Regions from separate parts of the Homo sapiens genome. Here all the other regions are linked to region 3. The links come from fine-mapping of genetic effects on plasma protein levels. A gene starts in region 3. Each other region holds a variant in brackets. All regions are shown on one strand. Distances are between the middles of the regions.

Region 1 (2,767 bases), 16 kb before region 3:
GCATGATATAAAACAGAGAGAGATTCAGTTCAATACTGTATCAACAATTGACACAGTATTCCCATAAAAATCTTTATTGCTACCAGTATCTGGAAACACATTGAGATGTTATTAACTTTATTGCTTGCACATGTGACTGGCCAAATTCCGCGTGCAAGCTAATAAAACTGATACCTTTACCTGGCAGCTACTTTGTTCCAAAGTGATGCCTTTTGCATATAAACTGTATTTCCTATCTGTTCAAGGTTTATCTCATTGTCCTCCAGAAAACAAGGCCCTTCCTGTGACATAGTTTTACAAGATTCCAAGAAGCTCATTTCAGGTCTTTCCCATCATATTCCCTCCAGCAGTCTTCTTGTATATGGAAAGCAGTCTCCTGGAAATCTAGTGTTAATATGTCCTTAAGTGGGGAAACTTTCTGATAAGCCTCCAATAACGCCAAGAAAATTCCAAGGCTATGGCTGATTCTAGGTGCTGTTTGCCATTTTCCAAGAGGTATTCTCTGCTTTCCACCTTTGGAATTGAGATTTTAGACATATGAGAGAGAGATAATCTCCCACTTGTTTAAATCCTTGGCAGGCATGTAAATAATAGCCTGTCTGCAAACTTTAGACTGGAAAAGAAAGGAGCTGAACAAATAACAAATGCAGCAAGGACATTCCATGGTCTGCTGTGTTCTGCAGGTGTAAGGAAACCTACTTATAAGTTAGCCTATTCTGCTTCACAAGAAACCTCTGATTTTTAAACATTAATTTTTGTCACATGCTGTCTATGCCAGGCACAATTCTAAATGCTTGCCTAATTAGAAACCATTTAATCCCCATGAAAACCTAATAATGTAGGTGCTGCTACGAACCATATTTGACACATAAAAAAAATGAAGGCAAGAGAAAGGCTAGGTAACTCCTGCAAGATTAAAACAGCTGCTAACACAGGAATAGAAAACCAAATATTGCATGATCTCACTTAAAAGTGTGAGCCAAACATCAAGTACATATGGACACAAAGAAAGGAACAACAGACACAGGGCCTACTTGAAGATAGAAGGTGGAAGGAAAGTAAGGATTGAAAATCTACCTATCAGATACTATGCATATTACCTGGGTGATGAAACAATCCATACATCAAACTCCTGCAACACACAATTTGCCTGTATAACAAACGTGCACATGTACCCCTGAACCGAAAATAAAATTTTAAAAAACCAAACAGCTACTATGTGTTGGCACTAGATTCAGACATGCAGTTTAGCTCCAGGGCCATTCCCTGAGTTCCCAAAATACTGATTTTCCTCTACTTATTTCCACATGCAACTCATCCAGCTATCTGGATTCTGAATGATTTCAACACATAACCACCCATTGATTATGGTCAAGGACAGAGGCTCCACAAGAAGAGCTTAAAAAGTGAATAAATGTAAGACA[T/TCAAG]CACCCAATTCTTAACCTGCAATTTAATTTGTCTTTTACACACACACTAGCACCACAAACCCGTGTGTGTGTGTGTGTGTGTGTGTGCACGCGTGTGTGTGCTCCTGAAAGGAGGAATTGTTCTTTAGAATCCTCATGGCCTGGTCACCACATAAAAGTCCCACCTCTTAACATTGTTCCAATGGCAATTAAATTTCAACATGAACTTTGGAGAAGACAAACATTCAAACTGCAGCATTCTAGCTGCCTAAAAATCATGTATTTCTCAGGTACAAAATGTTTCATTTCATCCCAAAAGCCCCAAAAGTCTTAGCTCATTATAGTATCCTCTTAAAAGTCTAAGGTCCAGATTATCATCTAAATATAATCAAAATCAGATACGTGTGAAAGTCAAGTATGATTCATTCTGAGGCACATGTTTCTCCAGCTGTGAAATCAAGTAAGTTATGTACTTCCACAATATAGTGATGGGACAGGCACAGGATGGACAGCCTCATTCCAAAAGAGAGAAATGGAAAATAAAAATAAATAATAAGTCTGTAATAAGTCTGTAATAAGCCCAATTCCCACCAAAGCAAATAACATTAAATCTTGAGGTTTGAGAATAATCGTCTTTGGCTCCAAGTCAAACCTTCTCTACATATTGGGGTGAGGGTTGGGCCCCCATGATTTTGCTGGATGCATCCCAGGAAGTAGCTATCAGAGGTTAGAGTCTCTTTTATGCAGCCCTCTACAGGTGGCATCTCACACTGCTGGATCTACAGTTAGGGTTTTGAAGAAAACCCACTCCCCAAAGTTCTACTAGTAATTGCCCTAGTGGACAAACTCTGTGGTGACCCTGTCCTTGTGTCAATTATTTGAGCCCCGAGTCTCTCTGAGGCATCTTTTGAAATCTATAATAGGCAAGGCTACAAAATTAGCAACCAGTGGGCACTGCCAAGATTTACATCCTGCACCTTCTGGAATGGTGGATGTAGCCACAAGTGAGATCCTTTTTTTTTTTTTTTTTTAATTATACTTTAAGTTTTAGGGTACATGTGCACAATGTGCAGGTTAGTTACATATGTATACATGTGCCATGCTGGTGCGCTGCACCCACTAACTCGTCATCTAGCATTAGGTATATCTCCCAATGCTATCCCTCCCCACTCCCCCCACCCCACAACAGGCCCCAGAGTGTGATGTTCCCCTTCCTGTGTCCATGTGATCTCATTGTTCAGTTCCCACCTATGAGTGAGAATATGTGGTGTTTGGTTTTTTGTTCTTGCGATAGTTTACTGAGAATGATGATTTCCAATTTCATCCATGTCCCTACAAAGGACATGAACTCATCATTTTTTATG
Region 2 (2,767 bases), 14 kb after region 3:
TTTTTTTTAGCAAACAGACAGACCTTATCTCTTTCCTTTTCATTTTTTCCAAGATTAGCTACAGCTTCCTCATGTAATATATATCTTGTCCCAGAAGAGGGCTTAAGAGGCATAGGAAAGAACCATAGCAATTCCAGGGGTGGTGGGGACGGGGCAGCTTGCAACAACTTATTATTATTATATATATATATATATTTTTGCCTATGGTAAACACGGCCTTATTTGGTCCTGCAAATTGCTGGGCATAGATGGCCTGAGCATGACCAACTCCTTTAAATTGGTCCTTGTTTCCTCCAGAGTTCACCTTACCAGAGTTTGACCCGGAAAGTCCCCTTCATTTGGCCAAGCCTCTGTCACAGCCAGGATAATCTGGTCTATAAGACTGTGCTTGCTCTCAGCAGTTCCAGCACTATGCAATGCTGTCTCAAAGCAGATTGGGTGGTTACAGTACTCATTGTATCAGCTTCACTTTCTGCTAAGGAAATGCCATTCACGCTAGGTTTTCTTCGCTGCATCATCCATGTGGCTCAGCTTTCTATTGGCTGCTCTTTGAAAGTTTTTGCTATGTTCAATAATTCTGCCAAGGTGTAATTTTGGACATTGAAGTTTTCCTGAAAAGGTTGTCCATTACCAGCTGGCTGCAGGCGTTGGGCTTTTGTTTTCCATTGCATGAGAGGTCTTGCTCTCAAAAGGGAAGGATAATTATCCTCCTCCTCCTGAGGTATGTCTTCATCTCACTCACTATTTGGTTCCTAAGGACAACAAGTCTTAGCGTTCCAGTCCAATTTAGGAAGAACAGCTTGCACTTTTGGCCAACACAGCTCTCTCCCATCTAACCATATAAAGCAGCAGGCTAGGGGTTCCAGGTGAGTATCCTGAGTTTTGAGCTTATCTGCCAGACTAGATGCAAACATGGACGTGGAGGTCCACATATCCTTTTCTAATGGTAATTCTTCCTCTAGTCTTAGTACCTTCATCTTAGCTGCTAACTACACTTCTGTGGCCATTCCCACAATCCGTAACAGTGGCCAACCCTCTGTCTCAGCCACCTGGTGAACTTCCTTACCCCAGTGAGCTGTAAGATGTTCTACTAACAAGCATTCTAGACCCTCCAGCATTTTCAGGGCATCTCTGTACTCACAT[G/C]ATGGTCCACAGGCATCTAGCAAGTAGCCAACACCACCCCACATAGATGAGGGGAGCCTGCCAGGATTTCCTCCACGTATGTTTCCTGCCTTTTGCCCAAACTTTGGTTCCTGGACCCCTATTGACTGACTCCCCAGTTGTTTCATAAATGACCATATATGCAAAGCAACCACCAAACACGAAAGGAGCCAAGAAACTAAAGACTGAGGCAGAAGAGTCCAGTTTGTCAGTAAAGGGTGATTTGCTGGGGAACATACAGACAGAAGTGTGGTCTTGGCGGCCACCGACAGGGAGATCTCCACACTGTTACTCCCTGGCCCCAGGGCTTATGTACCGCAGGGAAAGAGTGCACGTGCTCTATACAGACAATTAGAGGCAACCCTTCCAAACAGACAAGAATGCTATGTTCACTATAGCCTATCATTTGTGCAAAGACCTCAAGATTGTTTTTTTCTAAAGGCAAGATTTCTAGTAAGTATATGTTCTTACCCTAAGGACAGTAAATAATGTAGGAATCAGGAAGCATTCCCACGACTGGGGCTAATCAAAAGTCAACATGGCAGATTAGCACCCAAGATGGAGTCACTTTCATCTCCACAGTGTCTGTGAATCTAAGTCAATTTATTCATAGCTCATAAATAGATTTTGTTGTTGTTTTAATTCAGACTAACAATATGTGCCTTTTGATTGCATTGTTTTATTAAATCCCAGGTAATAGTATTATTGATGCTGTTGGTGTTATGGGCTGAATGGTGTTCCCACAAAATTAATTCATTAAAGTCCTAACATCAGTACTTCAGAATTTGACTGTATATGAAGATAGGATTATTAAATAACTATGCCTGAGTATTTTATTAATCTAATTTATTATTCATTTAGCCGTTCATTCCAGGAGTGCCATTTAACCAACATTGCTGGCCACCAAGCCTCTAGTCATTCCAACACCAATGCATTCAACACTGTAGACCTGACAATTCTCAAATTATCACTTCAGTCATAGCTTCAACTTGTATAACAAAGCACAGATGTGCCTTCCTCAGGTCACAGGTATGTGAACCTCTTTAGAGTACCAAACACTCCAGTCACTTGTAAATCAACAGTAATAATTTCTCTGACACTGGGTCCATGGAAATATGTGGGTGGTGAGTGAAATCCTTATCTTCTTAACATTGTCATAAGCAAGGCCACCATATGTTCATAAACCCTTGAGTCCAACATGCATGATATGTGGACAAAGTTTTTAAAAGTGAATGGGCCGAAGCAACTTCTAGAGTGCTACAATCACTGCCATCCCAACTACCCAGGCATTAGGTGGGGAAATAGCAGACACAGAAGACAGCACTATGGGGGAAACATGTTTATTTTTATTGTTTAGGGCTCCAGAAATTGAGGTAGGTAAAGATACTAAAGATCAGTCATGCAAATTTAGCAGAGGAGAGATGGTCCAGATTGATATGGAGAGAGATGGTCCAGTTTAATTCTTTTACTCCATAGTAACTGGTAGACCAATTCTAGACGTCCATTTTACAATTGCCTCCAGTATTTGAACTTGCAAACAAAGGAGAACTTCTCCTTACAAGAATCATCCTTCCATTTCTTGAATCCTATAAGACAATGAGAAGAT
Region 3 (2,767 bases):
ATATATATATATATATATATATATATATATACTTTTTTTGTAGAGATGGGGTCTCGCTATGTTGCCCAGGCTGGTCTCGAATTCCTGGGCTCAAGTGATCCTCTCATCTCAGTCTCCCAAAGTGCTGGGATGACAGGCTTGAGCCACCACACCAGGCCCATCATCAGTTTTTATATAAAGAAAAAAAAACCTTAAAATTGTTAGGCAAATACTATGACAAATTGTAATATATATTCTTACATTTCAGATTTTTATTTTTTAAACTGTATAAGAATTGATTAATAAATAAAATTTAGTATTAATCTGTCTTTTAAAACCATATATAAAGTTTATCAAATAGCTTATAACTTCTTGCAACTGAATTTTTGTATTCAATGTTATGGCTTTGATACTAGTCCAAGTTGAAATATAGATATCTACTTTATTCGATTTAAATTCTGTTTAGTATTTTATTATATTTTGTTAATCCATTTGTCCCAATTCATATACTTATCTCTCTTTCTGTGAATATTCAGGTTAGTTTTTTCTTCCTAATTTTGCATTCTGATTGGCTTTTATTCCCTGAATTATAAATGACTATTCTATGATGATTCTGGTAAATACTCAATTTCACCACACAATCTTTGACTTCATACTAACAAACAGTTGACTTCAAATGGACAATTTCAATGAAGCCTGACTTCATATTTAGCTCCTTTAAGCTTCCTTAGGCATCAGCTCTCTACAATTCTCACATTGAGAATATGTGTATTTTGTTAGCTCAAACCTTGTTAGACATGTTAAATGTTTAGAAATATAAATTTAACCTACCCCTTGAGGTAGGTCTTGAGAGGTTTGTGAGCCTAAAAAGACATGGAGGAACCACTTATTGCCACAAGCACATTGTTCTAAATTATTTGGAATCAGTTAATTCTTCCCCATCTCCTACCCATGCCTGACACCAAAGAGGAGCCTCTAAATTTACAGGGAATACAAGGAAGTCTACTGTTCTCTGCTCCTCTCTGGGTTATTAGGGCACATGGGAGCCCTCAGTTGTTTTCTGCTGAGCAAGAGCAAAGTCCACCTTGGACTTAGACAGCTTGCCAAATTTTTTGCCAGAAGGGGACCTGAGTTGTGACCACTCCCAGTGTGTGCCGGGAAAAGGCTCGTACTGGTGCCAGAATCTCTTACTGTCAATGCTCCCAAAACTCACCGCTTGCCCCCACCCCTTTTGCTTAAATGACGTGGTTCTTATCTCAGATCCTGATATAAAGCTCCTACAGCTACCTGGCCTGAGAAGCCAACTCAGACTCAGCCAACAGGTAAGTGGGCATTACAGGAGAAGGGCGTCTCTAACATGCACTGTAGATCTAAAATCTTCGGGAAGATACAGCATGAGTTTCTGTCCAAGAGGTTTTAGCTGTAATGAAGCCTCAGTGGGATCCAAAGTTGTTTTTCAGTTACTGAGTCTGTATAATCCCCACTCTCAAGAGAAACATTTGAAGGTGTGGGTGTCTCAGAGGACCTTCCTGGTCTCAGAAATTCTGAGAGGAGGTTTTAAGGAAGGTAATAGGTGCTTTGCTCTCCATCTCTCAGAACCCCCTTCTCTGTGTTCTCCTATAGAGATTGTTGATTTGCCTCTTAAGCAAGAGATTCATTGCAGCTCAGCATGGCTCAGACCAGCTCATACTTCATGCTGATCTCCTGCCTGATGTTTCTGTCTCAGAGCCAAGGTAAGATCTCTTTTCCACCAACCAACTCTTTCTAGCCCTGAAGACTTCACTCTATCCCCAAGCATACGGGTCTACTTGAAAAAAAAAAAAAAAGCAGAGTCACTGTTAAGGGTTGTTTTGTGGTGTTTAGTGATCTTTATTGCTGATCTCTTCACATTTATATACATCCACACCTCATTAAGGAGTTGGAGCTAGAATTTAAAATGACCCCTTATAAGCAACTGCTGCAGTTGGCATGAGTTTATCTGATTAAATTTATACGTGATGGTGGATTTGGGGATGTCTGTGTGTAGACAGTCACTAATGGGGTGGAGAACTGAAGAGAGCCTTGTGTTCAGGGAAACCAAGTCAGGCTTGAGAAAGTAGAAGGCTGAGTCCTTCAAGGTAGAAGAGCCTGAGCTCCAGACATAAAAGGGAAACTGGAGACTTGTTTCTTTGGCCTATTCATTCTGTTTTTTTTCCCCTGATCAAAGAAACCAAAGACAGAAGATGTAGGATGCAGGAGCAATAGTGAGCAGTCATCCCATAATAGACTGGATTCTTCTGTTTCTATAAAGGAACCTCAGAAGCTCTTACCTCACCTTCAAGCCTTTTCCTTACCCTGAGAGCCTCCTTTAATTGTCTCTTCTTTTTCAGGCCAAGAGGCCCAGACAGAGTTGCCCCAGGCCCGGATCAGCTGCCCAGAAGGCACCAATGCCTATCGCTCCTACTGCTACTACTTTAATGAAGACCGTGAGACCTGGGTTGATGCAGATGTGAGTGAGGAGAGCAGTGTGGGAAGGGAGACTCATGAAGGGAGGGGAAGCTGCCACTCTCCAGTGTGTTCAGTGGCTGCAATGAGATGAGACTGAACCCCTTGCTATACTATCATCAGCCCCAAACTTTCCAATCTACTTTATCCCATTATTCAGCACATTCCCAGCACAAAGAACCTGGTGGTCAGTGACAGCATCATCACGGACATTACTCTGCTGTCCTTTTTCTGACCCGTCCTCTTGGAGGACTCAGTATATCCGTCACAACTTCCTCCTCCACTGAGTGCTCCATTTTCTTCT

Which allele goes with the higher level. Positions count from the first base shown, and alleles are read on the strand shown. Strength reflects both the effect of a copy and how common the allele is.
With allele TCAAG in place of T in region 1, the plasma level of the protein whose gene starts at base 1,275 in region 3 is higher (weak association).
With allele C in place of G in region 2, the plasma level of the protein whose gene starts at base 1,275 in region 3 is higher (moderate association).

Evidence for each region. A credible set is the group of variants that fine-mapping cannot tell apart. PIP is the chance, under the fine-mapping model, that this variant and not a neighbour inherited with it causes the effect. Protein levels are from antibody-based Olink assays in UK Biobank. Linkage for the fine-mapping came from a reference panel and not from the study's own genotypes, which makes the PIPs less certain.
Region 1: its variant is the best candidate, but not a certain one, in a credible set for the plasma level of the REG1A protein (UK Biobank, PIP 0.51).
Region 2: its variant is the best candidate, but not a certain one, in a credible set for the plasma level of the REG1A protein (UK Biobank, PIP 0.60).

Annotation. Positions count from the first base shown.
Region 1 is chr2:79,103,272-79,106,038 of GRCh38, forward strand. No RefSeq gene overlaps it. Among named protein-coding and RNA genes, the nearest start is that of REG1A, 16 kb to the right of the region's middle. The variant T/TCAAG (reference allele first, on the strand shown) is at 1,425.
Region 2 is chr2:79,133,017-79,135,783 of GRCh38, forward strand. It overlaps the pseudogene REG1CP. Among named protein-coding and RNA genes, the nearest start is that of REG1A, 14 kb to the left of the region's middle. The variant G/C (reference allele first, on the strand shown) is at 1,144.
Region 3 is chr2:79,119,214-79,121,980 of GRCh38, forward strand. It overlaps REG1A (regenerating family member 1 alpha), which reads left to right and starts at 1,275. Exons shown (of 6, transcript NM_002909.5): 1 at 1,275-1,301; 2 at 1,603-1,712; 3 at 2,349-2,467. The coding sequence starts at 1,649.